2 separate regions of the Homo sapiens genome follow, and region 2 is linked to region 1. Evidence: fine-mapped expression QTL. A gene starts in region 1. The other region holds a variant in brackets. All regions are shown on one strand. Distances are between the middles of the regions.

The links. PIP is the estimated chance that this variant, and not a neighbour inherited with it, causes the effect. A credible set is the group of variants that fine-mapping cannot tell apart.
Region 2: its variant is the best candidate, but not a certain one, in a credible set for the expression of CERNA1 in substantia nigra (GTEx, PIP 0.53).

What each region holds. Positions count from the first base shown.
Region 1 is chr15:52,172,744-52,189,477 of GRCh38, forward strand. CERNA1 (competing endogenous lncRNA 1 for miR-4707-5p and miR-4767) reads left to right here and starts at 7,283. Exons shown (of 3, transcript NR_102751.1): 1 at 7,283-7,658; 2 at 8,307-8,459. It overlaps GNB5 (G protein subunit beta 5), which reads right to left. Exons shown (of 13, transcript NM_016194.4): 2 at 11,808-11,951; 3 at 7,025-7,136. The coding sequence starts at 11,933. RefSeq lists a silencer at 6,694-7,353 and enhancers at 7,399-7,900, 7,724-7,813, 11,662-11,831.
Region 2 is chr15:53,013,770-53,030,503 of GRCh38, forward strand. The region is part of intron 4 of LOC107983981 (a long non-coding RNA gene); the gene reads left to right. Among named protein-coding and RNA genes, the nearest start is that of LINC02490, 94 kb to the right of the region's middle. The variant C/T (reference allele first, on the strand shown) is at 8,547.

The DNA of each region.
Region 1 (16,734 bases):
TGACAGAGTGAGAACCTGGCTCAAAAACAGTAAATGTATAGATGGGTATAAAATGAAAAGCACCTTCACTTTCCATACCCCTCTCTAGCGATAACAAGTTCCTTGCGTATCCTTCCAGACATTTACTGCATATACAAGCACCTCTTGTTTGTTAAGATCATGTTATATATACTGTTTGGCACTTTGCTTTTTATTTTCTTTTACTGAATAAAAAAAATCGGCACCTTTTCATACGTGGATTTACTTTTCTTTCTTTTCAATGCCAATCTTTTTTTTTCATTTGATAAATATTTACTTAGCCTAGCTCACTGTTGTAGGAGGGTGATCCACAGTAAATGATACAAATAAAGTACCTGCTGCCAAGGTACTTACATTCTAGTAAGGGAGACATAAAATCAACCAATCATCAATCAGTCAACAAAGAATAAATGAATGAAAGTAATTTTAGAGAGTGATGAAGTGAACAATGAAAGGGAGCTGAAATTGTAGGAAGTTGGGACAGACATGGCCATTTTAGATTAAGGAGTCTCCATGCTGCCCAGGCTGGTCTTGATCTCCTGGGCTCAAGTGATCCACCTGCCTCTGCCTCCCAAAGTGCTGGGATTACAGGCATGAGCCACCGTGCCCAGCACATTTACTGCTTTTTATAATAAGGGAAGGTGCCTCTGAGGAGGTGGAATATGAACCGAGACAGAATATATGAAGTAAACTAGGCAAAGAAGTGGGAGAACATTCCAGAAGAGAGAATACAACATGTCTGAAGGCTGAAGGCAAGAACAAGCTTGATGGTCTGAAGCTCACCAAGATGGCCAGTGTGACTGGCGATAGTGAGCAAAGCATAGACTGATCCAAGGTGAAGTGGAAGAGGTAGACGGAACTAGGTCAGTTAGGGAGACTGTTGGCAAATCTCAACTTTCTAAGAGAAGGTCTAGCATGGTGAGGAGGACAGCTGTCCTGGGAGCTTGAATCTTCTCTACTCCCTATTCAACATTAGAGTAGCTACAAAATCTTAGGGAAATCCCTTCACCCCTCCCTGGATCTCAGCTGCTTTTTCATCTATAAGGGACAGGGCTGTTAGGAAGAGAAGGAAATGTTTTGTGCTGGAAGACTGAAGCTGAAGCAGGGGAACCCTCCTGATCTAAAAGCTGTGTGATAGGCTAAATAATGGCCCCCAAAGGTATCCACATCCTAATCCCCAGAACCAGTGGCGATACTATCTTACGGCAAAAGGGACTTTCTAGATGTGATTAAGTTAAGGATCTTGAGATGGGGAGATTATCCTGGATTATCCAGGTGGGCCCAACATAATCACATGGATCCTAATAAGAGGGAGCAGGTGGGTTAGAGTCAGAGAGAGAGGTGACCACAGAAGCAGTGCTCAGAATCACGTGAGCCTTGGGCCAAGAACATGGGCAGCCCCAAGAAGCTGGAAAAAGCAAGAAATGGATTCTCCCCTAAAGCTTCCAGAAGGACCTGCCCACCCATTTTAGTCACCGATTATAGACCTCCAGCACTATAAGAAAACAAATGTATGTTATTGCAAGCCACTAAGTTTGTGGAAATTTGTACAGTAGCAATCAGAAATGAATGCACACTGTAACCATATGATTCTAAAATGCCTTGGAATCAAGCGAGGTAGTACTCGCCTGTGGTAGAAGATAAGCAGAAAGTGACAAGGAGAAAGCTCTGGGGAGAAGCAGGAAGCTCTGTGGGAGGAAGGGGAAAATGGGGCTTGGGGCTGTGGAGTTTGATGTGAGCTGGCTTCCCATCAGAGGACCCATATAAGCTATTAATACTTCCTATATTTAATGTTGGCCAAGGGTCTGGCTTGGGGATGAGGGCCAAAGGGATGGAGGTGAAGAACTCAGTGTCTGAAGAGAGGAAACCATTTTTTCCTCAAAGTTTATGCTATACAATTTTAATATGTTGCCTTAAGCTACCTTAAGGCAAGAATTTGGGCAAGTCCAAGCCAATAGGAGGTAACAACTATCCTGGTTTGCCTAGGGCCGCAGGGTCTCCTGGGGTGCAGGACTTTCCATTTTAAAACCTAGGGTCTGGCTAGGCACGGTGGCACACGCCTGTAATCCCAGAACTTTGGGAGGCTGAGGCGGGTGGATCACCTAAAGTCAGGAGTTCGAGACCAGCTTGGCCAACATAGCAAAACCCCATCTCTCCTAAAAATACAAAAATTAGCTGGGCGAGATGGTGTGTGCCTGCTACTAGTGGGGCCGAGGGAGGAGAATTGCTTGAACCTGGAATGCGGAGGTTGCAGCGAGCCGAGATCGTGCCACCGCACTCCAGCCTGGGTAACAGAGCAAGACTCTGTCTCAAAAACAAACAAACAAACAAACACACATACCTAGGGTCCCAGGCAAACTGGGATGAGTTGATTACCTTAGCTGATAGCCTAAAGGGGTCTCCCTGACTAGGGCAGAGGCTACTGGGCCACCTATATAGCAACACTAAAATGCAAAAATGTACAGGCATCTAACACATGTTGCTCTGGGGAATAAACCATACCCCTCTGGTGTCAGCCGCATACCCTAATTTGGTACTATAAAACTCATGTGTCTGGCCACACATTCCCAATTCACAGGAAACCATCCTTGGATTCCAAAATGGGAAATATCTGCAGAGGTCATCACGAAGCAGGGGCTGGGAATCTCAGCTGGGCAAGAAACAAGGCCTGTGTGTGTCAGAAACAAATCTGTCAGGCCAGGCACATTAGCTCACGCCTGTAATCCCAGCACTTTGGGAGGCTGAGGCGGGCAGATCACCTGAGGTCAGGAGTTCAAGAACAGCCCGTCCAACATGGTGAAACCCGGTCTCCACTAAAAATACAAAAATTAGCCAGGCATGGTGGCACATGCCTGTAGTCTCAGCTACTTGGGAGGCTGAGGCAGGAGAATCGCTTGAACCTGGGTGGTGGAACTTACAGTGAGCTGAGATTGTGCCACTGGACTCTAGCCTGGGCGACAGAGTGAGACTCCGTCTCAAAAAACAAACAAACAAACAAACAAAAAACGGCCAGGCGCAGTGGGTCACACCTGTAATCCCAGCACTTTGGGAGGCCAAGGTGGACGGATCACAAGGTCAGGAGTTCGAGACCAGCCTGGTTAACACAGTGAAACTCTGTCTCTACTAAAAATACAAAAATTAGCCAGGTGTGATGGCATGTGCCTGTAATCCCAGCTACTCAGGAGGCTGAGGCAGGAGAACTGCTTGAACCCAGGAGGTGGAGGTTGTAGCGAGCTGAGATCATGCCATTGCACTCCAGCCTGGGCAACAGAGCCAGACTCCATCTCAAAAAAAAACAAAACAAAACAAACAAACAAACAAAAACATCTGTTAACTAAGGGGCTGCCAGTCACCATAAGAGATACAGGAAAGTGCATGCTGCCAGCCCCTGCTCTGGGGAGTGAACAGATTCAGTTTATGGTCCTCCCCAGCCTCACCAGACCCTTCCCACCTTCCCCCAGGCTCTCAGCCACTTGCTCAATGGGGAGCCCTGCAAAGAAAGCTGCATCATTCCTAAACTGAATCCTGGCCCAATCACTAACCAGCTGCATGACCCTGAAGGAATTATTCGACTTTGCTAAGCCTGCTCGCTCATCGCACAGATGGGGATGATACCACTTTCCTTCATACAGGGAAAAATGACAGCACTGTTGTTTGCACCTGGCAGGGCTCTAGCTTATACTTCCACAAGTAAAACTCATCAGCATCCTTTCCTCCCTTTCCCACCTGAGTGCCAAGGGACAAACACACTTAGGAAGGAGCTGGGCGAGTCTGGGCTGGGGTAAGGTAAGAGCGGCTGCAGGGTCAACTATGGGACCAAGACAAGCTCAGAAATCATCTCTCGCTCTTCCACCTTCAGCTGTAACTTCCATTAGGAGCTGGCAAGTGGCACGCAAGGTAGGCTCTCTGATAAGAGGGAAAGAGACATTTGTCAAGAACTCTTACCCCAGGTCACTTACCTCTCACACTTCATTTCCCTCCCTCAAGCTGTCTTGTTCTGCCACAAAACATGGCAGGCAGAGTGAGCCCAGTAAAGCAATCAGATCCATCCTCTCTCTCAAAACCCTCCAAGGGTTTCCCAACTCACTGGGAGTAAGAGCCCAAATCTTCACTGCACCCATGGGGTCCTGCATGAGCTCCCAGCATAACCTGCAGCTGGACTCTGCCCTGCATACTCCCCTCCAGACACACCTGCCTCCTCACTCTTCCTCAGATACATCAGATACACCAAACACACCCCCTCCTGGGGCCTCTGCCTAGCTCCTCCTTTTTTTTTTTTTTTTTTTTTTTTGAGACGGAGTCTCGCTCTGTCGCCCAGGCTGGAGTGCAGTGGCAAGATCTCGGCTCACTGCAACCTCCAACTCCCTGGTTTAAGCTATTCTCCTGCCTCAGCCTCCCAAGTAGCTGAGATTACAGGCACCTGCCACCATGCCCAACTAATTTTTGTATTTTTAGTAGAGACGGGGTTTCACCATGTTGGCCAGGATGGTCTCAATCTCCTGACCTCATGATCCACCCGCCTTGGCCTCCCAAAGTGCTGGGATTACAGGCGTGAGCCACCCTGTCGGTCCGAGACCCTGTCTCTTAAAAATAAAGATGAATAAAGAAAAGAATGGCTGAGTGCGGTGGCTCACACCTGTAATCCCAGTACTTTTGGAGGCTCAGGCGGGCAGATCACTTGAGGTCAGGAGTTCGAGACCAGCCTGGCCAACATGGTGAAGCCTACTAAAAATACAAAAATTACTTGGGTGTGGTGGCACATGCCTATAGTCCCAGCTACTTGGGAGGCTGAGGCAGGAGAAACACTTGAACCTGGGAGGTGGAGGTTGCAGTAAGCCAAGACTGTGCCATTGTACTCCAGCCTGGGTGACAGAGGGAGACTCCGTGTCAAAAAAAAAAAAAAAAGAAAAGAAAAGTAGAGAAATGAGAGAACCTGGCTGGGAGATCAGGAGACATGTCAAAGGGGAAGAGGTCAATACAGTGATAAGAACCTTCAAGAAGCAAAGGCTTTATGCGGGGTAGAAGAGAAGTGGTCTGGAAGCTGCAGGGGAATCAAGAGGGACACAACCACATGACTTCTGGTCTTTCCAGCTCACAAATTCTGACATATGCAGGTAGGGATAGACCCTTCCACTGTGGGTCTAAAATCTGGCCCTAGCTTTTGAGGGCACCACACTCTTGGCAGGACAAAAAAAAGTTTCTTCTTTTGGATTGACTACATTTGCCCCCTGAGGTTCCCTTTGAAAAGCTGCATCTCTGCTCTCTGTCTTAAGGCAACTTACAAATTCACAGAAAACCTGAAAATATCCAGGCATGCAGCCTGCACTATTGAATAAGTGAGTTTCTGGAGAACGCCCTCTGCATGAAGCTCAAAACGGGTTTGGCGAAAATAATCTGAAGTGAGCCTGAGCTGGCACTCTGATTGCCTGGGGGGAATCCGGGTCCCAACACTTAGCAGGGGACCTTCGGTAAGTCCTTTAATTCTTTGTGCCTCAGTTTCCTCATCTGTCAAATGGAGAAATTAGATGACCTATGAATACTTTTCACCATGTTGGCCAGGCTGGTCTCAAACTGGGAGAAGGATTTCTGGGAAAACTTTTGCTTTGCTTTCTTGATAGGGAGCAAAGAGAGATTGGTGTCCATATTCCCCCTTCTTCCTGCCTTGGATACAGAAGTGATGTTTGGAGCTGTGGCAATCATATTATAATCATGGGGCAAATGCCACTGCTCTAAGGTGTGGAGAAGAAAGGCAGAAGGAGCCTGGGTCCCTTGGTGGGGGGTGCATGGTGCAGCTGAACAACAGCAGGTGATCATCCACCTTTGCTCTTGTTATGTAAGAAAAGTAACTCTCAATTTGCATAACTACATTATTTGGGGTTTACAGTTAGTGATTGCTGGACAGGATTTCTAAGCTTAGAGTGCCTCCTATTTAAAGAAGACCCCTAGGAAAGCACAGCACACGCTAGATCCAGGTCATCCACTTCTCTTAAGTGATCTTCAGAGATCAAAAGGTAAAGGCCCTAGCACGAACCCCATTTTTCCATTCCACATAGAATGTAAAGGGTGGCATCGATTAGGAATGGCAGGAGAACAACGTCAAGGTGTGCAGGAGGGCACCGTGGGAGGTGCTCAGCAAAGGGGAGATGCCACCCTCAGAGCTCAAAAGTGAGCAGATACAACCACTTCCCCAAGCCTGGCCCCCAGCCCAAGCTCTGCTGAGGAGGAGCCCTCTGACAAAGTAAAGGAACGCTGTTTTGGCCAAGAGCCGCTGAACCTGGCTATTTAATCGCTCACTCATAAAAATCACAGAGCCAGTTCTGAATTACGGTGGTGGTGGTGAAGAATGCAAGTTTAAGATCGCTATGGCTTTTTTATGCCAATCCACCACATCGATCCAAAAGCTTTTTAAACAGCCTTAAACGAACTGAACGGTTGAATTTAGTGAGCTCCTCCGTTTCCCTTCTCTCTCCGTCATCCAGCTCCCCGCCCCAAGGATAGGGGAGAGGTTGGAAAAATGAGCTTTGAAATTGCAGTCTCATAAAAGCAAAACTGAGAAAAGATACAACAGTGATGGAGAAAGCCAGACGGGCATTAAAAAACAAAACAGGAGTCTCTCCTAGGCCGCGCCTACACGGGCTCGCCGCGCTCGCTCGTCACCACCGACACCCCACCCCCTGCCCTCCGCATGGGAGGGGCAAGAACGCGATCCGTTCGCAGCTTCCAGGCAGGTGATGAGGATAGCTAGTCCCGCGGTCCTCCGCTAGCTGGCGGCGGGGGTCGGCCAGGTGCCCGGACCCTCCGAGGGCCCCACCGCCGCGCGTCCCGGGGATCGGGACCGCTACCCGCGCCTCACCTGCGCGCCCGGGCCCCAGGGCCCTGCTCCCGGGCGGTGGCGCGGGCCTGGCTCCCGTCGCAGCCACGACCGCCCCCACCGCCCCCGCCGTCCCCGCCCGGGAAGTGGCGAGCCGGTCCGGCTTGCCCCGCCCGCCTCCCGGCCCGCACTCACGCTCCACATCGTGCAGCTTGGCTCGCTCCTCCTCCAGCTTGCCCTTGAGGCTCTCGGCCTCGCTCTTCAGCGACGCCAGCGTCTCGTTCTCGTGCAGCCCCTCGGTTGCCATCTTCGCGCGGGGACGCAGCGGAGAGGGAAGCGGAGAGCGGGAATGCGCTGAGCCGCGGCGGGCGCCGCTCCAGCAGCCGTCCCCGGCCCCGAGCACCGCCCCGCGGCCCCGCCCTCCGCGATGACGCCAGCAGCTGCGGGCCCGGCTGCTGCGCCTGAGCCCCAAGACCCCGCACCTGGGCGCGCGCTCTGGCGCAGTGCCTGGTGCGATGTCCGCGTCAGCCTCTCTCCTCCGGGAGAGGCAGGGAGTGTGACGCCCATTTTACCAGCGGGCAAACTGTGGCTTAGGGATGCTGGGTGATTTGCCCGAGGACGCACACAGAGGGAAGGGCCAAGCCGGGATTCCAACTCGGGACTCCCCGCTTCTGGGGAGACCGGTGAGGCCCCCGCGACATGGCCCTCCCATCCCCAAGCCTCTCGTGCAGATCTCCGCTCTGTGGGACTTGATTGCGGGCTGCGGGCCCGTGGCTCCTGCAGGCAGAGAGAGGACGGGAGAGGAGACGGCTACGAGGCTTGGCCGCAGGTAGCTACGGTGCTCCCCCAACAAGGAACCGGAAACCCTCTTCGTTTGTTGATCTAAATATACAAAAATAAAACTAGTTGCTGGGTTCTCAGACGGAGTCTCTGCGGCATTAGGAGGCCCACCCTTATTTTCTCTTTTCTTCACGCAGGAATCAGGTCCCTGGCCTGGGGGCGGCAAAAGGAGATGGCGGTGGGTCAAGTGGGCGCGCAGGCTCAGACCTGGGGCTTCTGAGCCCACGCCCAGGCATCTCGGACCTCTCACTTCTGAGGCCACCTCCTGCCCTTTAGAATGAAGGGCTGGCACAGTTCTGCCAGGATGCACGTTTAGCGACTTCTGTCAGACTGAAGCATCCCCTCTCCGCAAGCGCCTGAAGTGTGAGAGGCACTGTTCTAAGTGCTTTAATTTGCACTTGTTTAATCCTCACAGGAGTCAACTTGAATGGGCACACTTATTCCCACTTTACAGAAGAGGAAACTGGGGCACAGAAAGACTGAGTAATTGCTCAGGGGGCATGCTCCAAGAAAGAGGGAGAGACAGGATTTGGACCCAGACAGGCTGGCTCCCTAGTGCTCTGGACTTTGGTGTGGATGATCCAACTCAAGCCTTCTCCTTTTTCCCTCCTATGTGATCTTGCATGCGTTTGTGCAGAGAATGAGAAGGCAGATCAAAGTTACAGATGCTGCGAGAACATCGCCAAGCAGAATCTTGGGTGCTGTCCCCACCTCTCTGTACCTGCTCCCTCCCAGAGAAGCCAGCCTCCACTTGCTGTCCCGGGCCTTCTCTATCTGAGAAAAGTTGAAGGTACTCGATGTTAATCTGTACATAGTTGTTTTGCAGGTTAGAGTCTGGGATCCTCCGTTTCCTTATCTGGAAAAGCTTCTTCATAGGATCTGCTTCATAGGATTGTTATGAGAATTAAGTAAGATGGTGTGGGCCGGGTGCGGTGGTTCACACCTGTAATCCCAACACTTCGGGAGGCCAAGGTGGGTGTATCACCTGAGGTCAGGAGTTCGAAACCAGCCTGGCCAACATGATGAAACCCTCTCTCTACTAAAAATACAAAAATTAGTCGGGCGTGGTGGTACGTGCCTGTAACCTCAGCTACTCAGGAGGCTGAGGCACGAGAATCGCTTGAACCCTGGAATCAGAGGTTGCAGTGAGCCGAGATCGTGCCACTGCACTCCAGCCTGGGCAACAGAGCAAGACTCAAAAAAAACAAAAACAAAAACAAAAACAAAACAAAAAAAGGTAAGATAGTGTGGGTGAAGACTTTAGCAGACTTCTCCGTACATAGCAGATGCTTATTCACTGCTAGTTCTCTTTTCCGTTCCCATCCGTATAATAATAGGTTTACTTGTCGCTGTTCCTTAGTATTTAGATATTTAGCATAGTACTTGCATATGGTAGGTGCTCAGTTAATGCTAGTTTATTAAATGGATGTATAAAAAATATATAAAATATATAAATCTGTATAAACTATGTTAAAAATATAAACATATAACAAACATGTTTATAAATGAATAAATATATAAATACAATTATTAAGTATAAGATAAGAATATATAAAAGCAAAAATATTACACCTGTTTGAGAGTTTGTAAAGCAAAAGGTTAAGAGCACAGGCTCTATCTAGATCTGACTGCCTGGGGGCAAATCCTGGCTCTGCTCTGTGGCCTGAGGGATTTACTTGTGGTGCCTCAGGCTCCTCATCTGTGAATGGGGGACAACACCTCCTTCAGACTCTGTATGGCATTCGGAGAGAGCAGTGCGTGGCACACAGTATGCATCTGTTATTATTACTGAGGCTGCCTGATACGCTTGAGCAGTTCACATGAGGTAATTTAAATGAGACACTGGGTCATGGGGGATTCTTCTCACAAGGGCCATCTCAGGGGGCCCAGGCAAGGCAGCCTCATCTCATCACCTCCTTAGGCTGGCTCTGTTTGGACCGTTGCAGGATGTGTGTGTGGTTCAAGGTCCTCCTGGCTGTGAAGACCTGAGGCACGTGGTACTTCTCACTGGTGTGTGCCCTCTTCTGGGGGTTCTTTGTGTAAAATAAACCTCGAACAGCCTCCAACCTGGAGAGTCAACTATCTAGAGATGAGGCCATCAGACTTTTAATGGTTAGGCAGTTTTCCAAGTACTTTCTTGTATTTTGGTGTTAACTCCCACTGAGGAAGCTGGATATCAGAAAAGTTGAGGTCAGCTACATTCCACAGTGGTTGAGATAAAGGGTCACTCCTATTCACAAAAAGGGCCCAATGGGGACTGTGTCTACATAATCCCAAACAGTTGGATGAAAGGCCAGCTGTCAGTCACTGGATGTCTCTTCAGCTGAATGATGCTGTCTGAATATTTGGGAACCCCCAAGTAGAGAGTAGAGATTGTATTAAAGTAATTGTGGTTTTTGCCATTGCTTTCAATTGAAAGCAATGAGAATTGTTATGAGAATTAAGTAAGATTGTGTGGGCCGGGCGCAGTGGTTCACACCTGTAATCCCAACACTTTGGGAGGCCAAGGTGAGTGTATCACCTGAGGTCAGGAGTTCAAAACCAGCCTGGCCAACATGGTGAAACCCTCTCTCTACTAAAAATACAAAAATTAGCCAGGCATAGTGGTTTGTGCCTGTAACCTCAGCTACTCAGGAGGCTGAGGCACGAGAATCACTTGAACCCTGGAGTCAGAGGTTGCAGTGAGCCGAGATCGTGCCACTGCTTCAATTGAAAGCAATGGCAAAAACCGCAATTACTTTTGCCCCAACCTAATAGTAGCGCTAGCTGGCAACTATTCCCTAGAAAAGTATCTCCAGGCATGGCCCCTGTGCTAGGGAGAACCTGTGTGCCACAGAGGACTCAAAATCTGGGATTCTTGGGCTTATTCCACCTGCAGAGGAAGTTGTTTAAAAAGCAGAAGAGTTAGATTAATAAATAATGGGGGGGGGGTAAGGCCCCCAGAAAGCAGGTTTATTTTTAAGAACTAAATGTCCTCAGTTCTACAATTTGCAGGGCCAAGTTAGAACGTAGACTGTAGAAATATACTACAGGTAGAAGCCCACTACACCTAGGCTGAAGACATATCCAAATTGCTATGCTGTATCAAAGCCTTTTTATGCCACCCTGGGCTGTTTACTTGCTATTTGCTTTAAGGGAATAATTTTTAATGTAATCATGGTCAGGGGTTACAGTGGAATCAGGAGGATAAAAAGTGCCTTTTCTTTTTCAGTTAGATAAAATGTAAAAGTCATCTTTCCTCTCTTTGGTTGTATTATGGATTTTGTTGTTGTTTTTTTAAATGTGTGGGGATTTCCTACTGGGCTTTTCAGGAGGAGTGCTTTACCACTTTTCACCAAGTGGGGGCTCTGCTCAGCTGCACTATTGAGCGCAGCTTTGCAAATTCTCAGAGATAGGACTAATTCTTAGGGCTTCAGTGATGCTGTGGGCATTTTTGCTGCAAGATCTGAAGCCTGTGCACAGCCACCTCTGGTGAGGACTTGATTTTGTGTACTTTGAAAAATTCCAGGATTTGTATTCCATTCCTAGTCTTTGTTGAAGGCTTAGGCCCAAGGAGTACTTCTGAGCTGAATTTTGCTCACTACTGAGGCCCTGTGAGATTCCATCTTCATTAGAGCTGGACCTACACACCACTGGGACCGGTCCTTGGAAAGATGCTCCTAGACTGTTTATTTGCCAGCTTCTCTTTTAGCTTGATTGCCTGCCAAGCAGACTTGTAGAAGTCAGAAGAAAAAAGTATTAGCCCTAAGAAATAATAGAAGCTAAAACATTCATTGAGTACTTTCCTTGCTGGGTACTATTTAAAATAAGTTATCAAATGAAATCATTTGATCATCATAAAACTCTTATGATGTAGGTGCTATTAGCATTCCTATTTGCAGATGGGAAAAACAGGCTTCAGGAGAGAGGTGAGAACCTCCTTGCACACCAATAACTAGGAACATCAATAGGATTTGGACCCAGGCAGTCAGACACCAGAGTCCACACCCTGAACCTCTGTACTATACTGCCTCACCAAGCCCAGGCATACTGAAAAGTGTGTGTTATATAAGCTGATTCTATGGCATCTCATCTGTCACAGGACCCTCGCTTGACTGTTTTAAGACAGATAACTGAATTTTTTTTAAGTGGCACTTACAATTTCTGCACATGTTGAACAGTAGCTGAGTTGTTGAGACTTCTTGAAAACTGGTCTCAGAGCTCGTTGTTTGAAACATTTGTCACATGAGCCAAATACATTAACGAGAAAGGTCTGATCACACATCTTTTACCCAAGATAAAGCTGAAAAAAAGTGAAAAGAAGGGAGGGGGTGTGAGAAAAGCCAATGGTTTTAACTTTCTAAAATCTCTTCTTGCTTGTACCGTGGTAGCTATTCAGACGTCTACATGTGGGATAGAGTATATGCAGTTAATTTATAACCTTTCAACTATTACAACATGCTGGGTCAATACAACTCATTTAATCAGTGAGAAAGCATCAGACAATAGGTTTTCTGAACTTAACACGTTTAACCAGTTTTTTGGCAGCTGGCAGACCTGCGTCAGGCAGGATTGATCCTTGCAGCACAATATCAATTCTGTGGGGTTTCACAATGGAAAACGTTTTTGTAATGGATGCTATAACTTAAAACTTTTAAAAACATTCCTCCCCTCAGGGTGAACTTTTAAAGATAAGGGTCAGCAAATGATGGAGCCTGACCCCAACCAAAGCCAGGGGCCTGAGTAAGTGTGGTGTGGGTTCCGTGCAAGGCAAGCACTCACTTATTAAACATTTGACAGCCAAAGACCCAGGGTCCCTGCCTGTTCACAAGGAAGTCAACAGACAGGCCCAGGCCGCTGCAGGGAGGCAGCACAAGCATCTAGTGGTTACAGGGACAGGCTCTGGCTGCCTGGTCCCGGCCCACCACTGAGGCTAGTTAGCTGACCTCTCTGAAGCTTGGTTTTGCTAATCTGTCAAGTGGAGATCTTAAAATCTACCCTTCTGGGGTTGTCAAGAGAATGATAAGAGTCAGTGCGTAAAGCACTTAGCTCAAGGTCGGTAATACAGGGAGTGTGCCAGCGAGGTCATGCTGCCCTGAGTGGCAGCAATAGCGGGAACAGTGGCTGCCTTGGGAAGGAGGGACATGGGTAGGGGCAGGGTGAGGCTGGGGATGCCAAAGAAAGCATAAGAGGAGCCTATGGCAACGGTTCAGACAAGACGCGAGGAAGTCATGGACTAAAGGTGAGAAAGTAACTTTTATCTGAGGAATGCAAGCCCTTTTAAATTATCAGGCCCAGAGAATCATGAAAATGAGACAGCAATAACGTTCTAGTCCCCACTTTGAGCTGTGTATTCATCTTTTTATTATTATTATTATTATTATTATTATTATTATTATTATTATTTGGGACAGTATCTCTCTGTCTCCCAGGCTGGAGTGCAGTGGCACAATCTTGGCTCACTGCAACCTCGTTCTCCTGGGTTTAAGCGATTTTCCTGCCTCAGCCTCCCAAGTAGTTGGGATTACAGGCATAAGACACCATGCCAGGCTAATTTTTGTATTTTTAGTAGAGGCAGGGTTTCACCATGTTGGCCAGGCTGGTCTCAAACTCCTGACCTCAAGTTATCCACCCACCTCGGCCTCCCGAAGTGCTGGGATTACAGACATGAGCCACCACACCTGGCCTCATCTCTTGAAACTGCTTGCCATTGGCACAAGTAGCTAAAAAATAACCTAATAATGCCACACTGGACACTATAACCCACACCCTGTAGTGTAACAATGTATAACCAGTCGCTAATCAATGTTATTTCTGTAAACTAATGAGAATTCCTAACAACTTTGTATCAGCCCACTCCCGGTCCCTCTTTTTTGCCTTTTTAAAAAAACTGCTTGTAACAAAGGCCAAACAGAGATAATGTCCAAGGTTACTTGGGTCTGGGCCTTCCAGGAATCTGTCCTCACTTTGGCTCAAGTAAACTCCTTAAGTCTTGGTTTGTGCTACAGCCTCTTCCTTTTAGGCCCACAAAGCAATGTAGTGGGATGGACTTGGACCATGCTTAGGAAAGAGAGAAGGAGCTGGATTTGGCATGTGGAGTTGAGGAGAGGGAGATGTGGGTGCTGTGGCCTAGATTTCTTTGGGAGACCGAGGGGTTATGTTGCCATTGCTGGAGATGAGGACAAAGCGGTTAAGGGGGAAGGGAGCAGCCAGTGTGGCCCTGTCAATTTGGTAGGTGTTCTAGAGTGAGCCCCGTCAAGATTCAAAGAAATGAACCCCTGAACATAAAGATAATTGGGGGCGCTGGTCTGAACATTTCAACAGAGTCAAATCTGAGAGGGATGCATTTATGGGGGAGGTGACAGTTGGGGACATTTCTGATGAGGAACGTCTGCCATGTGGAGCCCACCCTGGGGCTGGAGAGATAATGGGGGCTCATGAGTTGGGCTGAGCTCTTACAGCAAAGGGGCAGTCAGCACAGTTCGAGACCTCTGGGCAACAAAGGTGTACAGGGCATCCCTTAGGGACAACAGCTCGCAAGGAAACCAGCTACCAACTGCCACAGAGTGCCCAGCCCTCGCCTCTCCCTGGGAGGGAGGCAGGACATCTGTGTTACAGCTGAGGAAAAGCAGGGGGATTAAACAAGTTCAAGGTCAGCGGCAGAGCTGAGTCTGTAAGTAGCATGAATACACACTTTGGAACCCTATTTCCAAGCTAGCATGGTCAAGCTGCATGGTTTTGTCACAAAAGGTGAGTTAACAAAAAAGGGCCTGCCCTCCAGAGCCTGGCCCATGGTGGGGCTTGGTAACTGTTGCATCCCACTCCCCAGCCCTGTAAAGGCAGCCAGTAACAAGGTTGGGCTGAACACTCCCAGTAATAGCATTAGGACGGTGAGCCACAGGCTGTTAAGCAAGGGAGCAGTGTCATCCACGTGGATTATTCCAGCATTTGTGCTTCCAGAAGTAGGTCAGAGAGAGAGAGAGAAGGGACGGCAGGAAAACAAACTAGGTTAAGAGATTGCTATGTTCTGGAGAAGAGGAAATGAGCTGCGGACAGAGGAGCAGCTATGGGAATGGAAGGCGAGAGGAACCTATGGCACCAAGTGGAGGAGGAATAGAAGGATGGCTGGGAGGCACGGGAGAGAAAGACAAGTTGAAAAGATAGCCGATATTCCATATCTAGATAGAGGCAATGTTTTTCTTCTCAAACTAAATTTTGAATTTTTTCAAATTATAAAAGATGCTGATAATGTTCATTATAAATAACTGGAAACAGGGCCAGGTGTGGTGGCTCATGCCTGTAATCCCAGCACTTTGGGAGGCCAAGGCGGGTGGATCACTTGAGGCCAGGAATTTGAGACCAGCCTGGCCAACATAAGGAAACCTCATCTCTACTAAAAATACAAAAATTAGCCTGGCGTTGTGGTGCGCACCTGTAATCCCAGCTACTCGGGAGGCTGAGGCAGGAGAATTACTTGAAGCCGGGAAGCAGATGTTGCAGTAAGCTGAGATCATGCCACTGCACTCCAGCCTGGGTGACAGAGTGAGACTCCATCTCAAAGAAAATTAAAAATTAAAAATAAATAAATAAATAAGTGGAAACAGAAGGACACAAAAAGGGGAAAGTAAATCGCCCACATGCCCTACACCAACAACTGACCTGTTGGCATTTTATGTTTTCCTCTAGTATCTTTATAAGTATATATGTGTGTACTTTTTAACAAATTGGAATTATATGCCATATACTACTTTATATAATAGCATTTTCATCTTCACGTCATTGCATATTACTGGAAAACACCATTTTTTAACGGAGACTCCAATTTTTGAGTCCTATGGGCCTTAAGTCGTATCACATAGCTAGCATTTTAGACCTCACTGGTTAAACATGGGCAAGCTACAAACTAAATTTAAAGCATTTTTAAACTGTAAATATTATACATATGCATTGTAGAAAGTTTGGGGGAAAAAAAGATATAAGGAAGAAGATAATCACCTATAATCCCACCACTCAGAGAAACTTCTTTTTACATTTTGGTGTAGCAAGAATAGATTTGAGACCACTGAGGTCATACTGTTCATGTATACTGATTACATTTCTGTATCTTGATGTTTTTCACTTAGTATTTGTATCAGCTAAATTTTAGTACTTTGTTGTACTTATTGTCAATATCCTTTTTATGATGAGAGAATTTTTCACAGCTAGAGCCAATGTTTCGATGAGCATTTTGACAAGAAAGACAGAAATGCCCCATTTAACAAATTTTGACATGAAGTTGCTCTGCAGTAGTTCATAGAACTTCTCAAACCTTCCCCTAATAACTTTATGCCAAGCACAAACTTTCTTTGATATCTGTTTTACCTAAATATGTGACTTAAAAAATTACCACAGAAATACGTGTTTATTTTAAAAAGAACCAGTACCAAAGATGAAAAAGTAAAACTTGAATCCCCCATCACATGCCCTGCATTTTCACTGCCCTTAGTTTGTTGTTTATTCTTCCAGACTTTTCTGGCACAAACACATAGATACAGCTTTGGTAGTCATGCAAATAGGGCTACTTGCTTTCTTCATCTAACTTATTCTGTTAACACTTATAGATCAACCTTGTTTGGTAATAGGTTCAGCATTATTCTATGCTGTGGAGTGTCATAATTTATTAAACCAACTTCCGTGTTTGGATACATAGGGTATATCCAGTTTTTACTTTTAAAATACTGCTTCATTAACTCAATTAAAAATGGACAAAAGGACCTTCATACATTGCTGGTGGGAAGGTAAAGTGGGGTAGCCGTTTTCCAATGGTGCAGCTGTGGAAAACGGTTTGGCAGTTATTCAAAACTTAAATATACAGCTGTTACCATAAGACCCCGCAATCCTACTTCTAGATATATACCCAGGATACTTGAAAATGTATGTTCACTGGCTGGGCGTGGTGGCTCATGCCTGTAATCCCAGTACTTTGGAAGGCCCAGGCGGGTAGATCACCTGAGGTCAGCCTGGGCAACATGGTGAAACCCCATATCTACTATACAAAAATTAGCCAGGCGTGGTGGCAGGTGCCTGTAATCCCAGCTACTTGGGAG
Region 2 (16,734 bases), 840 kb after region 1:
TTTGCTCTTTTGGGTGGGGTGGAGTGCGGTGGCCTGATCATAACTCACTGCAGCCTTGAACTCCTGGACTCAAGTGATTTTTCCCATCTCAGCTTCCGAGTAGTTGAGACTACAGGTCCATGACACTGTGCCTGGCTAATTGAAAAATTTTTGGATGGGAGGAGATGGTATCTTGCTTTGTTGACCAGGCTGGTCTTGAAGTCCTGGCCTCAAGTGATCCTCCTGCCTTAGCCTACTAAAGTGCTGGGATTACGGGCATGAGCCACTGTGCCCAGCTGTCTTTCCTTTCATGGCTTCTGCAAGCCTAGTGGCTCTCCTACCCACCAGGAGAGAAGAATTACCATGCTACTCCCATGCAATGGTAATTCCACTTTTTCTTGCCGTATAGGAACATGGAGATCTCTTTGAAGCTTCCTTGGGTACTGGCTGTCTGGACTCACTGTGCTTCCTGCCCTTTCTGCTACCTGAGCTCTACCCTGGTTTCTACTAAAAAACATTAAATTTCAACACTTTGGGAGCCCCCACACTCCTTAAATCTCACTTCTCTCCAACATTTTAAAAATTCATGCCTAGAGTCCTTTTCAGCTCTCTAGAAGTTTAGGTTTTTGGAGTTCAGAGGTAGGTAGACTCCTTTTTACAAAATTTATTCACAGACAATAAGCATAGAGCACTTTAGCAGCTGAATTTTGTGGAAGAAATGATGGGACAAAAAAATGGAAAAATACCAGGAGATGGAAAAGTGATTTGCTAATACAAAACAATCACACCAAAACATGATAGTAAGAAGTTAGTTAGACTTCCTTTCACCCTTCCAGGTCCCAGAACAGCATTTTAATAATTGGGCACTAGTTCCTGTCCATGTTTGTAGGAATCATGGTCGGTCACTTAGAAGCAGATAAAAATATTTCAAGGAGATAGTGCCTCTTGAGAATCTTCTCTAGTTTCTTCATTGTGTATTTATTATTTGGTAATGACCGAACAGATAAAGTAATAGCTCTCTCTCCCGAATTCCCATTGTGCTTTATTTTCTCTTAACTTCCCTTGTGAAAGACTTGAGTTGTTGAAGGGTAAGATCTGTTTCTGACTTATGTCTCTGTATCCAGCATAATGTATGCTACATAACAGGTACTTAGTATGTTTTTTGATGATGAATTACTAGGGTCCCAAGAAAGAAAATTCAGAAATTAAATTCATTGGTATAAAAGGCTATGACTTTAATTGTGTCATTCATTCAATTATTTAATTTATTTTTTCATCAAATATTTGTGGAACACCTATAATATTTTGGTACCTGTGCTCAATCCTTTAGATAAAAAGATTAGCAAGAAACATACAATCTTTGAGGGGTTCATGCTCTTGGAATTGACCTGTATCTTAACTGACCTGATTAACTGTGTAGAATTCATTATGTATATGTACCACGGTTTAACAAACATCTTATGGACACTTAGGTTGCTTCTAATCTTTAGTTATTGCAAATAATGCTAATATGAATAATCATGCATAAGTATCATTTGATTCAAGTGCATGTATATATGCAGGATAACTTGCCAAATTGCCCTTCATAGGCTACTTTAATCAGTAATATATGAGAATTCACATCTGCTTTTAAATGTCTCAACCTTGGTTTCTGCTACTCATTATTCTAGGGTCTTCCTTAATTTGTTTATCCTAAGATTCAGGGACATATTCTCCTTTCATTTTCAGGACATACATTTGTAATAAAAGAAACCCAAAATTCTATGGATTGGGCACCATTTCCCAAAGTGTGTTCTGTGGAACACTAGTCCTGCAAGATGTTATAGAGTCACATGGTCATATAAATACTATATATTATGTCTGTTTCTTATAGAGTAACAATGCACTTTAGAACAATAAAGAAACTTGCTTAACTGCATTTAATCTTGGTGTTTCCAAAACGTATTTGGGCATCACTTTAAAAACACTTATTAATATTTCTTATAGCATGAACAGACATACATATGCAGATACACGTATGTGTACACACACATGAAAACTTTGAGAAATTTTGGAAGGAATATTTATGCCCTACCCAAAAACTTCAGATATTTTCATAAAGGACCCTCCTTCAAAAAGATTCCCCCAACCCAGTACTATGAAAAAACATGCCAAACAGTTTAGGAAACAGTTGGATTCAAACACCCAGACTATGTGGTATTTACTTCTGAACAATTATTTTTGTGATCAGGGATGTAGCCCCACATGTGTCATTTTATTTTATTTTTTGAATACTTTATTAATTTTTTTAAACTCTTATTTTAGATTCAGGGAGTACATGTGCAGTTGTATGATGCTGAAGTTTGGAATATAAATGATTTCATCACTCAGGTACTGAGCATAGTACCCAATAGTCAGTTTTTCAACCCTTTTCCCTCCCCACCTTCCCACTCTACTAGTCCACAGTTTCTTTTGTTGTCATCTTTATGCCCAGATGTGCCCAATGTTTAGTTCTCACTTGTAGGTGAGAACATGCAGTATTTGGTTTTCTGTTTCTGCTTTAATTTGCTTAGGATAATGGCCTTCACAAAGAACATGATTTCATTCTTTCTTATGGTGCGTAGTATTCCATGGTGTAGATGTACAACACTTTCTTTATCCAATCCAATGTTGATGGACACCTGGGTTGATTGCATGTCTTTGTTATTGTGAATAATGCTGCAATGAATAGATGAATGCATATGTCTTTTTGGTAGAAGGATTTTTTCCTTTTGGACATATACCCAGTAATGGGAATGGTAAGTCTGATAGCAGTTTTGTTTTAAGCTCGTTGAGAAATCTCCAAACTGCTTTCCACAGTGGCTGAACTAATTAGCATTCCCACCATCAGCGCATATATTCCCTTTTCTCTATAGCTTTACCAGCATCTGTTATTTTTTGATTTTTTAAAAATAATAGCCATTCTTACTGGTGTGAGATTGGATCTCATTGTGGTTTTGATTTGCATTTCTCTGTTGATTAGTGATGTGGAGACTTTTTTCGTATGTTGGCTGCTTGTATGTCTTCTTTTGAGAAGTTCCTGCTTATGACTTTTGCCCATTTCAATGGGGTTCTTTGGTTTTTGCTTGTTGATTTCTCTAAGTTCTTGTGGATTCTGGATATTAGACCTTTTTTGGATGTGTAGTTTGCAAATATTTTCCCCATTCTGTAGGTTGTCTGTTTACTCCGTTGATAGTTTCTCTTGCTGTGCAGAAGATCTTTCATTTAATTAGGTCTCACTTGTCAATTTTTGTTTTTGTTGCAATTACTTTTGAGGACTTAGCCATAAAATGTTTGCCAAGGACAATGTACAGAATAGCATTTCCTAGGTTTTCCTGCTAGGACTATTATAGTTTGAGGTCTTATATTTAAGTGTTTAGTCCATCCCAAGTTAATTTTTGTATATGGTGAAAGATAGGTGTCCAGTTTCATTCTTCTTTCTGCATATGGCTAGCCAGCTATACTGGCGCCATTTATTGAATGGGGAGACCTTTCCTGTTGCTTATTTTTGTCAACTTTGGTGAAGATTAGATGGCTGTAGGTGTGCAGCTTTCTTTCTGTGTTCTCTATTTGGTTCTATTGGTTTGTGTATCTATTTTTGTGCCAATACCATGCTGTTTTCTTTTCTGTAGCTTTACAGAATGGTTTGACATTGGATAACGTAATGCCTCCAGCTTTGTTCCTCTGGCTTAGGATTGCTTTGGCTATTTGGGCTCTTTTTTTGGTTTCATATGAATTTCAGAATAGTTTTTTCTGGTTTTATGGAAAATAATATTCATAGTTTGATAGGAATAGCATTGAATCTGTAGGTTGCTTTGGGCAGTATGGCTATTTTAACAATATTGATTTTTCCAGTCCACAAGGATGGAATATTTTCCCATTTGTTCATATCCTCTATGGTTTCTTTCAGCAGTATGTTGTAGGTCTCCTTGTAGGGACATTTCACCTCCTTGGTTGGATATTCCTAGGTATTTTATTTTTTGTGTTGTTATCATAAATGGAATTGTGTTCTTGATTTGGCTCTCAGCTTGAATGTTATTGGTGTATAGAAATGCCACTGATGGGTGGGTGTGGTGGCTCATGCCTGTAACCCCAGCACTTTAGGAGGCCAAGGCAGGCAGATCACTTGAGGTCCGGAGTTCAAGACCAGCCTGGCAAACATGGTGAAACCCCATCTCTACTAAAATACAAAATTTAGCTGGGTGTGGTGGTGGGCGCCTGTAATCCCAGCTAGTTGGGAGGATGAAGCAGGGAGAATTGCTTGAACCCGGGAGGCAGAGGTAGAAGAGAGCCCAGATTGTGCCACTGCACTCCAGCCTGGGTGACAGAGTGAGACTCCATCTCAAAAACCAAAACAAAACAAAAACCAAAACACAAAATGCTACTGATTTTTTTTACATTGGTTTTGTATCCTGAAACTTTTACTGAAGTTGTTTATCAGTTCTGCAAGCCTTTGGCAGAGTCTTCAGGGTTTTCTAGGTATGGAATTATATTGTCTACAAAGAGAGAGTTTGACTTCTTTTCTTATTTGGATGCTTTTCACTTCTTTATCTTGCCTGAATACTCTGGCTAACACTTCTAGTACTATGTTGCATTGGAGTGGTGAGAATGAACGTCTTTGTCTTGTTCCAGTTCTCAAAGGGAATGCTTCTAGTTTTTGTCCATTTGGTATGACATTTTTTTGGATGTGGGTTTGTCATAGAAGACTCCTATTATTTTGAGGTATGCTCCTTTGATGCCTAGTTTGTTGAGGGTTTTTATCATGAAATGATGTTGCATTTTATTGAATGCTATTTCCACATCTATGGAGATGATCCTGTGGTTTTTGTTTTTAATTCTGTTTATGTGGCAAATCACATTTATTGATTTGCATATGTTGAATTAATCTTGCATCCCAGGAAGGCTGTTTGATCATGGTGAATTAACTTTTTGCTGTACCATTGGATTTGGTTCCCTAGTATTTTGTTGAGGATTTTTGTGTCTATGTTCATCAGGGACATTGATGGTAGTTTCCTTTCATTGTATCTTTGCCAGGTTTTGGTATCAGGGTGATGCTGGCTTTGTAGAATGAGTTAGGGAGGAGTCCTTTCTCCTTGGTATTTTGGAATAGTTTCAGAAGAATTGGTACCAGCTCTTCTTTGCACATTTGGTAGAATTTGGCTGTTAATCCTTTTGGTCTGGGATTTTATTTTTTTGGTTGGTAGGTTTTTAATTACTGATTCAATTTTTGAACTTGATATTTGGCTGTTTAGGGTTTCAATTTCCTCTTTATTCAATCATAGGAGGTTGTGTGTTTCCAGGAATTTATTCATTTATTCTAGATTTTCTAGTTTGTGTGCACAGAGACGTTCATATTAGTTTTTCAGTGAACCAACTTTTGGTTTTGTTGATCCTTCGTATGAATTTTTGGGTCTCAATTTTGTTCAGTGCTGCTCTGATTTTAGTTATTTCTTTTCTTCTGCTAACTTTGGGGTTAGTTTGCTCTTTATTTTTTAGTTCCTCTAGGTGTGATGTTAGACCATTAATTTGAAATCGTTCTAACTTTTTAAGGTAAGCATTTAGTGCTATAAACTTTCCTCTTAACACTCTTTTTGCTGTAGCCTAGAGATTTTGGTATATCTGTGTTATCATTAATTTCAAGGTATTTTTAAATTTCTGCCTATATTTTATTGTTTACTCAAAATTCATTTAGCAGAAAGTTGTTTAATTTTCATGTAATTGTGTGGTTTTGAGACATCTTCTTGGTATTGAATTCTATTTTTTCTTCCACTGTGGTCCAAGAGCATGGTTGGTATGTTTTTATTTTTAAATATATATTGAGACTTGTTTTATGGATAAACATGTGGTTGATCTTGGGTTATGTTTTGTGTGAAAATGAGAAGAATATATATCCTGTGATTGATGGGTGGAGTATTCTGTAGATGTCTATTAGGTCTAGTTGGTCAAGTGTCTAATTCAAGTCCAGAATTTCTTTGTTGGTTTTCTGCCTTGATGGTCTGTCTAACACTGGCAGTGGGATGTTGAAGTCCCCCACATTATTGTGTGGTTTTCCGAGTCTTTTAGTAAGTCTAGAATCTGGGTGCTCCAATGTTGGGTGTGTATATATTTAGGATAGTTTTCTCCCTCACTCGAGAGCAGGCATTCCAGTCTCTGGTCTGATATTAAAATGCCTGACGTTCATGCTGCCAGGTCACCAAAGAATGGCTGACTTTGTATGTGCCTGGGCTAAAAATGGTGTCCTGTTCTCCGTCCTGGGTCTGGGAAAATGTCTGCAGCTTTTTCTTGTGTCTTTCCCTTACATTGTCTCCAAGCCTTTCCCCAAATTAGCTCCCACACTTATGGGAAACAAAGTGCTCTCCCTCAGCCTGGGTTGCTCTGATCCCCAGTGGAAATGTGAGTCATAGAGGGAGGCTACTTGCCTCTCTGAGGTACTCAGGCTTCACTCACTTTTATCAGCTAAATGTCACAGGAGCTGTTTGCTGGCGTTCTCCTCCCCAGTATCTGTGGTGCCCATCATGATTCTGGTGGATTCCCATTTTCCTTCTTGAAGTAAAGCTCCAGAGTTTATCTTTATGCACTATCTTGCTGTTTCCAAGTGGCTGAGGCATTCTAATACCTTTTATCTGCATCTGGGAGGGAGAAAAAAACCCTGTCATCATTTTAAATTTTCTTGAATCCAACTGCCTTTTCAACCAACATTTAGTTTTTAATAGTTTCACCTTGTATGTTCTCCTTCATAGGTTTAAGTTCCATTATTTCAGAGGATGACTGTCTTGTTATTTTTCCTTTTCATAGATGCTGGCTTTCTATGTTATATGAAACTTGATTTAAGTTTATGTTTATTCCACCTCTATTTTAAAAAGGATCTCAGTCCTTTGTAGGAGAAAATAAACTTGCTCAATTTCTTCTGTTATCTGACTCTCTGTCCAGATATTCATCCTTTACTTTATCCATCAACAGACATTTATTGAACACAGGTGCTAGGAATTGAGCTAAATGTCACAGGAGACACAAGGTTGAATATACATGGTTTCTGACCTACTTCAGCTGGCATTTTAGCTAAGGAAAATGGATCTGTCTGGCTGAGGCTTAGTGTGGGAAGAGGGCAGGGCTGCTGTGTGTGGTCACACAGAGAGCCTACATAACTTGAGGGGGTAGCTTCGACATAGGTAGGATATATGGTAGCTTCTTATGGAGTAGTGCCCGGTACTAAGGATCTGTACTAGTACACCATTTTAGCACTTTCCTGTTGGGGTTTTTGGCTTAGCTCCAGGAAATCATTTGTAAGTAGAGTTAGAGCGGGAGAAATAGTTTCTGGTCTGAACAACAGAATCTTACATGTAAAGATGGTTGCCATTTATTAAAGTAACTCTGAGCTAGTGAGATGTGCTGGCTATATACCCAGCTTTGAAATGTGACTCAGGATGTTGAATCTTAGCTGTGACTTGGCTCCACACATGAACCATTTGGATAGTGCACCTGGAAGTACAAAATCTTGTTCTGGACTGAAATCAGCTCACTCATTGAAATAAAAAAAATCATAGCCAGAAATCAATAACAAAAATGAAACTATAAAATTCACAAACCTTTGGAAAATGAAGACATATACTTCTAAACAATAACCCATGGCTCAATGAAGAAATCATGATGGAAATTTTAAAATACTTTCAACTGAATGATTTTGGAAATGTTACATATCAAAACTTGTGAAATATAGTAAAAAGCTTTGCTTATAGGGAAATTTATAGCTTTAAGTACATAAGTTAGGAAAAATGGGAGGTTGAAATTAATGAGCTAGGCATCCGTCTTAAGAAGTTGGGAAATAACAGCAAATCAAACCAAAGAAAGCAGAAGAAATGTCATAATGAATGTTAGAGTAGAAAATAATGAAGTTGAAAACAAAAAATAAATGTACAATACATCAATATAGGCAAAAGTTGGTTTTAGAAGAAGCTATTAAAACTGAGAAGTTTCTGGTGAGGCCAAGAGAGGGAGACACACAAACTCACACACACATGCACACACACACACACACAGAAAGAGAGAGAAAGAGAGAGAAACAGAGAGGAATCAATGTCAAGAATAAAAAAGTGATTATCTCAGGTCCTAGATATTGAAATGATAAGAAACTATTATGAATAACTTTATAGCAAAACTTTACAAAATTTAGGGGAAATGAACACATTCTTAAAGAAGTACAATTTTATTAAAAGACATCTGAAGAAAGAGAAAATCTGAATAGTCTTTTAACTGTTAAGAAAATTGAATCTGAAATTAAAGCTTTTCCTACAAACAAAACTCTAGATCAGATCAGATAAGAAATTATATCAGACATTTAGGACCAAAATAACTATCATGTTACACAAAAGAATATTCCAGACACATTTTATATCAAGTATAAAGCCTATCTCACTTATAGGCATAGAGGTATTAAAAAAACCTAATAAAAATGTTACAAATCAAATGTGATTGCTTTAGCCTTTGAAATCAGTGAAATTAACTTAGAGTAAACGAGAAAAAATCGACCATTTCAATAAGTTCAGAAATTG[C/T]ATTGAATAAAATTTAACATTGGTTCATAATAAGAATTTTTTAGTAAACTGGGAATACAGGAAGATTTTCCTAATGGTAAAAGATATCTATAAAAAGTCTACTATAATTTTATACTTAATGGTTAAATGCTCTTCTTTGGAGATTAGAAATAACAGAAAGATCCTCAGTATCACCACTTCTCTTCAACATTATACTGGAAATGCTATCCAGTGCAAAGAGGCAGAAAAACCAAAAGAAAAAAGGTATATAGATTGGAAGGGAGAAATAAAAGGATTACAAAAAATGATATGATTTTATGAAAAAATTCAAAAGAATGTACAGATAACATTAGTAATACATGACTTTAGTTAATGCATGACTTATAGTATTACTGGTCAATATTGAAATATAAACTGTGAACTTATATACCTGTAATAAACAGCTATGAAATGAATAAAAATACGATTTACAATAGCGTAAAAATATAAATTATCTAGAAACAAATCTAAAACATGATGTTGATATGGTTTGGCTGTATCCACCCCCAAACCTCAATTTGAATTTTATCACCCAGAATTCTTATGTATTGTGGGAGGGACCCAGGAGGAGGTAATTGAATCATGGGAACCAGTCTTTCCCATGCTATTCTCATGATAGTGAATAAGTCTCAAGAGACCTGATGGGCTTATCAGGGGTTTCCGCTTTTGCTTCTTCCTCATTTTCTCTTGCTGCTGCCATGTAAGAAGTAACTTTCACCTCCCGCCATGACTCTGAGGGCTCCCCAGCCACGTGAACTGTAAGTCCAATTAAACCTCTTTTCCTTCCCAGTCTCAGATATGTCTTTATCAGCAGCATGAAAACGGGTTAATGCAGATGTGTAAGACATCTATGCAGAAAACCACAAAGCATACCATAAAACTAAGAATAATATATAAATAACTGGAAGAAAAAATGTATATAGATTTGAAGATTTAATATAAGAAAGATGTTAATGCCGTTCAATCTTACCTTTTCAGTTCAATCCCAATAAACATCCTCATCCCAATAAAAAGCTCATTTTTTTTTTTTGGTGGAAACAACCTGATTCTAAAATTTAAATGAAAATTCAGAGGGTCAAGAATAATTAAGGCATTCTTGAAAAAGGGCAAGTCAGAAGATGATAAGATATAAGCAAATAAAAGTGTGGGCTATAATAGAAAGTTCAGAAATTGACCACAGATAGATGAACATTAAATTTATGACAAAGGTGGCACACCAAAATGGTTGGGAAAGCTCAGGCTTATCAATAAATTATGCTAGGAAAAATGAGTAAAAACATGGAAAACAAGAAACTTGACCCCTTCATCACTCCATAAAAAAAATCAATTCCAGGTAGATGTAAATGTGAGAGGCAAGACAGTAACAGCCTAGAAGATAACTTAGGAGAATATCTTTGTGGTCCAACGTGGAAAAAACACTAACTATAAAAAAAGGGCAAATATGACTACATTAACATTAAGAATTTCTTTTTATCAAAAGAAAGTGAAAAGGCAAAACAGAAAGAAGGAAAGTATTTGCAAGAAATATTACATATTTGAAATCTACTTACAAAGTCTTTGTATTCAAAATGTGAAAAATAAAAAGGAAAAATTAAGAGAAATAACCTATAAGCAAGAGATTTGAATAGGTACTCCCCAAAATATAGAATTCAAATGGCCTAAACATACATGAAAATTTGCCTAACTTCTTTAATAATTAAAATTAAAACCATAAGAAGATACTATTTGCCATCTTCATGAATTGCTATGCTTAATGGGACTGACAAATGCCTAGTGTTGAAGATGTAGAACTAGGTGAACTCACATTCATTGATGTGTAAACTGGTACAACTACTTTGGAAAACAGTAAGGTATTATCTACTAAGGACAGACAAAGATACATGTATTCTTTGACTTAGCAATTACAGTCTTAGATTTATACCCCGCATAAATGGGAACTCATATGTACCAGGAGACATATACGAGAATGTTCATAAAAACATTATTTTAATGGTTGACACAACCCAAATGTCTTATCTAGAATGGATGTATAAATTATGGTATACTCATATAATGAAATACTATACAGCCATGAAAATGAATAAACTACATGTAAGTGCAACAACATGAATTCCTCTTACAAGTACAATGTTGAACAAATGAAGGATTTGAAAGCATATCTGCATTATGACTCTGTTAATGAAGAGTATGAAGAGCAGGCAAGAGTAGGCTGTGGTGTTTGGTGAAGCATTTTTGGAAGTGAGAGTTGGTAAGAAGGTATTGTCATGGAAACCAGGACAGAGGTTGTCTTAGGGGACTATAAAGATTGGTGATTAGGATGAGGCTTTTGAGATTCTGGAAACATTCTGTTTCTTGGCCAAGGAAGTGGGATGTGTATTAGTCAGGGTTCTCTAGAGAGACAGGGCTAATAGAATAGATGTATATACGGAAGGGAGTTTCTTAAGGAGTATTGACTCACATGATCACAAAGTGAAGTTCCACAATAGGCTCTCAGCGAGCTGAGGAGCAAGGAAGCCAGTCTGAATCCCAAAACCTAAAAAGCAGGGAAGCCAACAGTGCAGTTTTCAGTCTGTGGCCAAAGGCCCTAGAGCCCCGGCAAACCACCGGTGTAAGTCCAAGAGTCCAAAAGCTGAAGAGCTTGGAGTCTGATATTTGAGGGCAGGAAGCATCCAGCACAGGAGAAAGATGAAGTCTGGAAGACTCAGCCAGTCTAGTTCTTCCATGTTTCTCTGCCTGCTTTTATCCTAGCTGTGCTGGCAGCTGATTAGATGGTGCCCACCCAGATTGAGGGTGGGTCTACCTCTTCCAGTCCACTGACTCAAATGCTTTGGCAACACCTTCACAGACACACCCAGAAACAATACCTTGTATCCTTCAATCCAGTCAAGTTGACACTCAATATTAACCATCACAGGATGTCACTGTGATAATTGAGAAGTACAGTTTTTTTAATTTTTAATTTTTATGGGTACATAGTAGGTATATATATTTATGGAGTACATGAGATATTTTGATACAGGCATGCAATGACTAATAATGACATCATGGAAAATGGGGTATCTATCCCCTCAAGCATTTATCCTTTGTGTTACAAATAATCCAATTATACTCTCAGTTATTTTAGAATGTATAATTAAATTATTATTCACTATAATCACACTGCTGTGCTATCAAATACTAGGTCTTATTCACTCTTCCTGTTTTTTTTGTACCCAGTAGCCATCCTCACCTCCCCCTGCACTCCCCACTACCCTTCTTGGTTTCTGGTAACCATCCTTCTACTCTCTATTTACATGAGTTCAATTGTTTCGATTTTTAGATCACATAAATAAGTGAGAACATGCAATGTTTGTCTTTCTGTGGTTGGTTTATTTAAAAAAAATAATGATTTCCAGCTCCATCCATGTTGTTGAAAATGACAGGATTTCCTTCTTTCTTATAGATTAATAGAACTCCATTTTGTATATGTACCACATTTTCTTTATCCATTTATCTGTTGATGGACACTTAGGTTGCTTCCAAATCTTGGCGACTATGAACAGTGCTGCAATAAATAGTGGAGTGCAGATATCTCTTTGATATACTGATTTCCTTTCTTTTGGGTATATATCTAGCAGTAGAACTGCTGGATCATATGATAGCTCTATTTTTAGGTTTTTTTTTTTTTTTTTTTTTGAGAAAGCTCCATACTGTTCTCCATAGTGGTTGGAGTAATTTACATTCCCATCAACAGTATATGAGGGTTCTCTTCTTTTCTGTATCCTCTCCAGCATTTGTTATTTCCTGTCTTTTATTTATAAGCCATTTTAGCTGGGGTGAGATGATATCTCATATTAGTTTTGATTTGCATTTCTCTGATGGTAGATGATGTTCAGCATCTTTTCATGTACCTGCTTGTCATTTGTATGTCTTATCTTGAGAAATGTCTATTTAGATCTTTTGCCTATCTTTTGATTGGATTATTAGATTTTTTTTCTATAGAGTTGTTTGAGCTACTTATAAATTCTGGTTATTAATCCCTTGTCATATGGGGTGTTTGCAAATATTTTCTTGCATTTGGTGGGTTATCTCTTCACTTTGTTGCTTGCTTGCTGTGTAGAAGCTTTTTAATTTGATGTGATCCCATTTGTCCATTTTTGCTTTGGTTGCCTGTACTTCTGGGGTATTACTCAAGAAATTTTTGCCCAGACCAATGTCCTTTACAGCTTCTCCAAAGTTTTCTTTTAGTAGTTTCATAGTTTGAGATCTTAGATTTAAAGACCTTTTAGATTGAAAGGCTCTTTTTTGATTTCCATTGGCGTAGAATATCTTTTTCAATCCCTTTATTTTCAGTGCATGTGTTCTTTTTTTTTTTAAATAGGTGAAGTATATTTCTTGTAGGCAACATATCATTGGGTCTCGTTTTTTTCCATCAGTTTAGCCACTCTGTGTCTTTTGATTGGAGAGTTTTGTCCATTTACATTCAATGTTATTGATAAGTAAGGACTTACGCCATTTTGTTATTTATTTTCTGCTTGTTTTGTGGTCCTTTCTTCTTTTTTTCTTTTTCCTGTATTGCTTTTAATGAAGGTGATTTTCTCTGGTGGTATGACTTAATTTCTTGCTTTTTAATTTTTGTACTTTTTTGTGTGTTTTTTGATTTGAGGTTACTGTGAGGCTTGCAAATACTATCCTATAACCCATTATTTTAAACTTATGACAACTTAACACTGATCACATAAACAAACATTCAAAAAGAAAAATAATAAAAACTCTATACTTTAACTTCATCCTCACTTTTTAAACTTTTTGTTGCTTTTCCTTATGTCATATTTTACTGTCTATGTCTTGAAAAGTTGTTGTTATTTTTGATTTGTTTTTTGTGATAGTGCTTTTCTGTGTGCAAATAGTTGTTAAAATTTGCTGTTGCTGTGGGGAGGATGAACGGTGTGGGCTTCTGTTCTGCCATCTTGCCCCACCTCCTGAGATGTGCATTTTAAAATTTTGTGCACTTTCCTTAAAATGATTTAAAAAGAAAAGAAAAATATACATATGCATATCTTTGACCAAAATTTCCACTTTGATTTATGTTATAATACAATCATATATCAGTGAAGTGATGCATTTATAGGATATTGCAACACTGAAATGTAAAAAGATTAGAAGCTACTGAAATGTTCTTTAATAGAGACCAGTTAAATAATTTATGAATAATCCATACAATAAAATATGAAACAGCTGTTAAAAAAGTGAATGACACAGTGCAATGTATACTTATCTGAAAGTCTTTCAATATTAAGTGAACAAAAAAACAGAGTTCAGAATAGTATGGATATACAAAATTTATGTATATGGAAAATGTGTGGCCTATTTCTAAAGTGAATAATAGTAATTTCCTTTGGCTAAAGAACTATGTGACTAGAAGAAAGGAAGAGAAGAAGAATTTTTCAATGAACTTCAAGAGGTGTTTTTGAATTTTTTGCCATAGATATATATTACTTTATTTGAAACTCTTTCAAATAGAAGAAAATACTAAAAAAAAAAAAACCAGAATTACCCCACCAGTCAGATATTTCCCTAAGCGTTTAACATATAAAATACAGGAATTGGTGTTATAGCAATTTTACAGATGTAGACAGTGAGGTTAGAAGGCTAAAAAACTTGCCTAAGATCATTCAGCTAATAAAGAGTGAAGCTGAAATTCAAACCCAAGTCTATATGAAAGGAGATTCAGCCTATTTGAAGAGACACAGCAAGAGAAAGAGAGAGAGAGAGAGAGAGAGAGAGAGAGCGCTTCCTGGCCTTCCTTAGCTCAGTGTGGAGCCATTTTGAAAATCTGCAATACGCCAATGATACCAATGATGCCTCATGTCAAAATTGCATTAAAAGTCATTATGTGTTGTTACAGTTCTTTTGATTCCATTAAAGTCACCCAGTGGTAACTGCCAAGTGAAACAAAATAAAAAGTAGAGATAGAAGCTTAGGAATTAAGGTTTCCTGCAGAAAATTCTAACATATAATAGTATTCACCTCTTTTAAGCTAGCCACCGCTAATTTAGGCCCATTTGTTGGGAAGTGCTTTGATTATATTTTATTTTATGGAGACATAATCTTCTTAATGTTGTAACAATTTCATCTCTTTGATGAAACTTACTATGATTTATTCTATAACTTTATACCCTCATTTTAAACATTTATCAGGGTCTATCTCCCACATCTTCCATGTTCAATGGGTATCAAACAAATCCTAGGCAGTCTGTTTCTAAATGTTACTTGGCTATTCCCCACTTTCTGCATCCCCATTGCCACTCTTCTAATCCAAGCCTTTTGGACCTTTAGCTTTAACTACTGCATTAACATCCTCAATAGGCTTCTTTTTCACTCAATCATTTACCATTCATTCATTTCTTCACTCTCTGTCTTTTGAGCACTTACTATCAACAAGATCTTGGGTAAACAGTGAGAAATAAAGCATAGTCCCCTTTCACAAGGAACTTATGGTTTACTGAAGAAAAACAACCATAAAAGCAGAAAATTACACCACAATATGAAAAGTGCTTTAATAGTAGTATGTACAAGATGTTATGGGAGCCCAAAGGGAGAAATGGAGGATATGCAGTGGAAAGTCATTGGAGGCTTCTCAGAGGAGGTGATGTCTGAATGAAATCTGTGAGGAGTAAGAGTTTTTCACTGGATGTGCAAGAAGAGCAATTGAGAGAGAAGAAATAACTTGAGTCAACTCAGGGAGACATGAAATCACCTTCTCTCCCTTCCCTATCTATGAGTTACAGCACGTAGTCACTTAAGTTATTTTTAATAAAGAGAAATTGGACATGCAGTCTGCTGATAAAACCTTTAATGACGCTCCAATTTCTTCAGAACCAAGAAGAAATTACTTGGTGTCAAAGAACCCTTTCCAGTTTTCCTTCTTACAACTTCCTTGAGATTTGGCAACACCAATTTGGTTAAGTTGGGAATTCTATTTCTTAGAAACCCTTCTTTGTAGGGTTCCCAGTTAGATGTCTGAAGGAAGAACTTGAATGAAATTCGGGAGGTGGGAGAGAAGCAGCAGTTGTTAATTTGGAAGTTTGTCCCAGTCAGATACAGAACCTGATGGGTTCTAGCTGATCATGGCTCTCCTCTTCTCTGTGTCTAACACATCTTCCCAAATGCTGCTCTGCTGACCAGTAGTGGTCTCAAGCCCACTACAAGACTCTTGACTATGAGTGTGCAGAGGTTGTGATCTTTAGAGACCATAGCTTCCTCTAGTCCTGTCCACAAGCTCTTCCTTTGTGGTTTCACTTTGGTGGCTAGATAAATTGGTTTCTTGGATTTCACTGCAAGCTTCAACTTTTCTTCCCTTGCTAGTGCTCTAGGTAGACTGGTTAATGACTTCTCCTCTGATATCCTGACCTTCACTTCCCCAGCTCCTCCCACAGTTGTGTAAGGTCTAATTCCTAAAATAAATCCCTGATTCCTGTAATACTTATGGTGGCTATAAACCCTGATTGATACAGGGAGGTTTCTTTAACAGGTCATGAACATTGATTAGAATGCTCCCTTCCTCTGCTCTCCATTTTTAGCATGGCAAACGCCTGTGTTGTTCACAGGTTCAGTTTAAATGTGTCTTCCATTGTGAAAACTTCTAGAACCTTCCTTTTTGCCAGTTTCACACAAACAGTGGTCCTGAAACACTTTGGATCCCTTTTCTTTATTTCCCACATCTACTATGGTTTGGTGTTTTTTAATCTATTCTCACCACGTATTGTGAACTCTTTCAGGTGGAGGAACATGTTTTACTATCTTTCCTGTCTTTCTTTGTTCTTCCACCCCCTGAGTTGTATAGCACAACACACAGTTCCAGTAATTGATTTGAGCTTATTGACTTGCATAGAACTTTCATACTACTCCTATGTATACATAGGAGTTGCTTCCAAATCTGTAAGGATTTGCAAGACATCTAATAGGAGGATTCATAGTTGAGAATCAGATGATCTTATAGATAAGACATTGGAAAAATGAGGAAGTGGACAGATACACAAAAATCATTTAAACTATTTTATGACATGAAAATAAGACAGTAAAATTAGTACACTAAATAAAGAGAATGCCAATGCCATATTACTCATTATTAGGTGGTTATAAAAGTTACATGACAGTTAATTTAGATTTGCCACTCCTTGGTACTGAA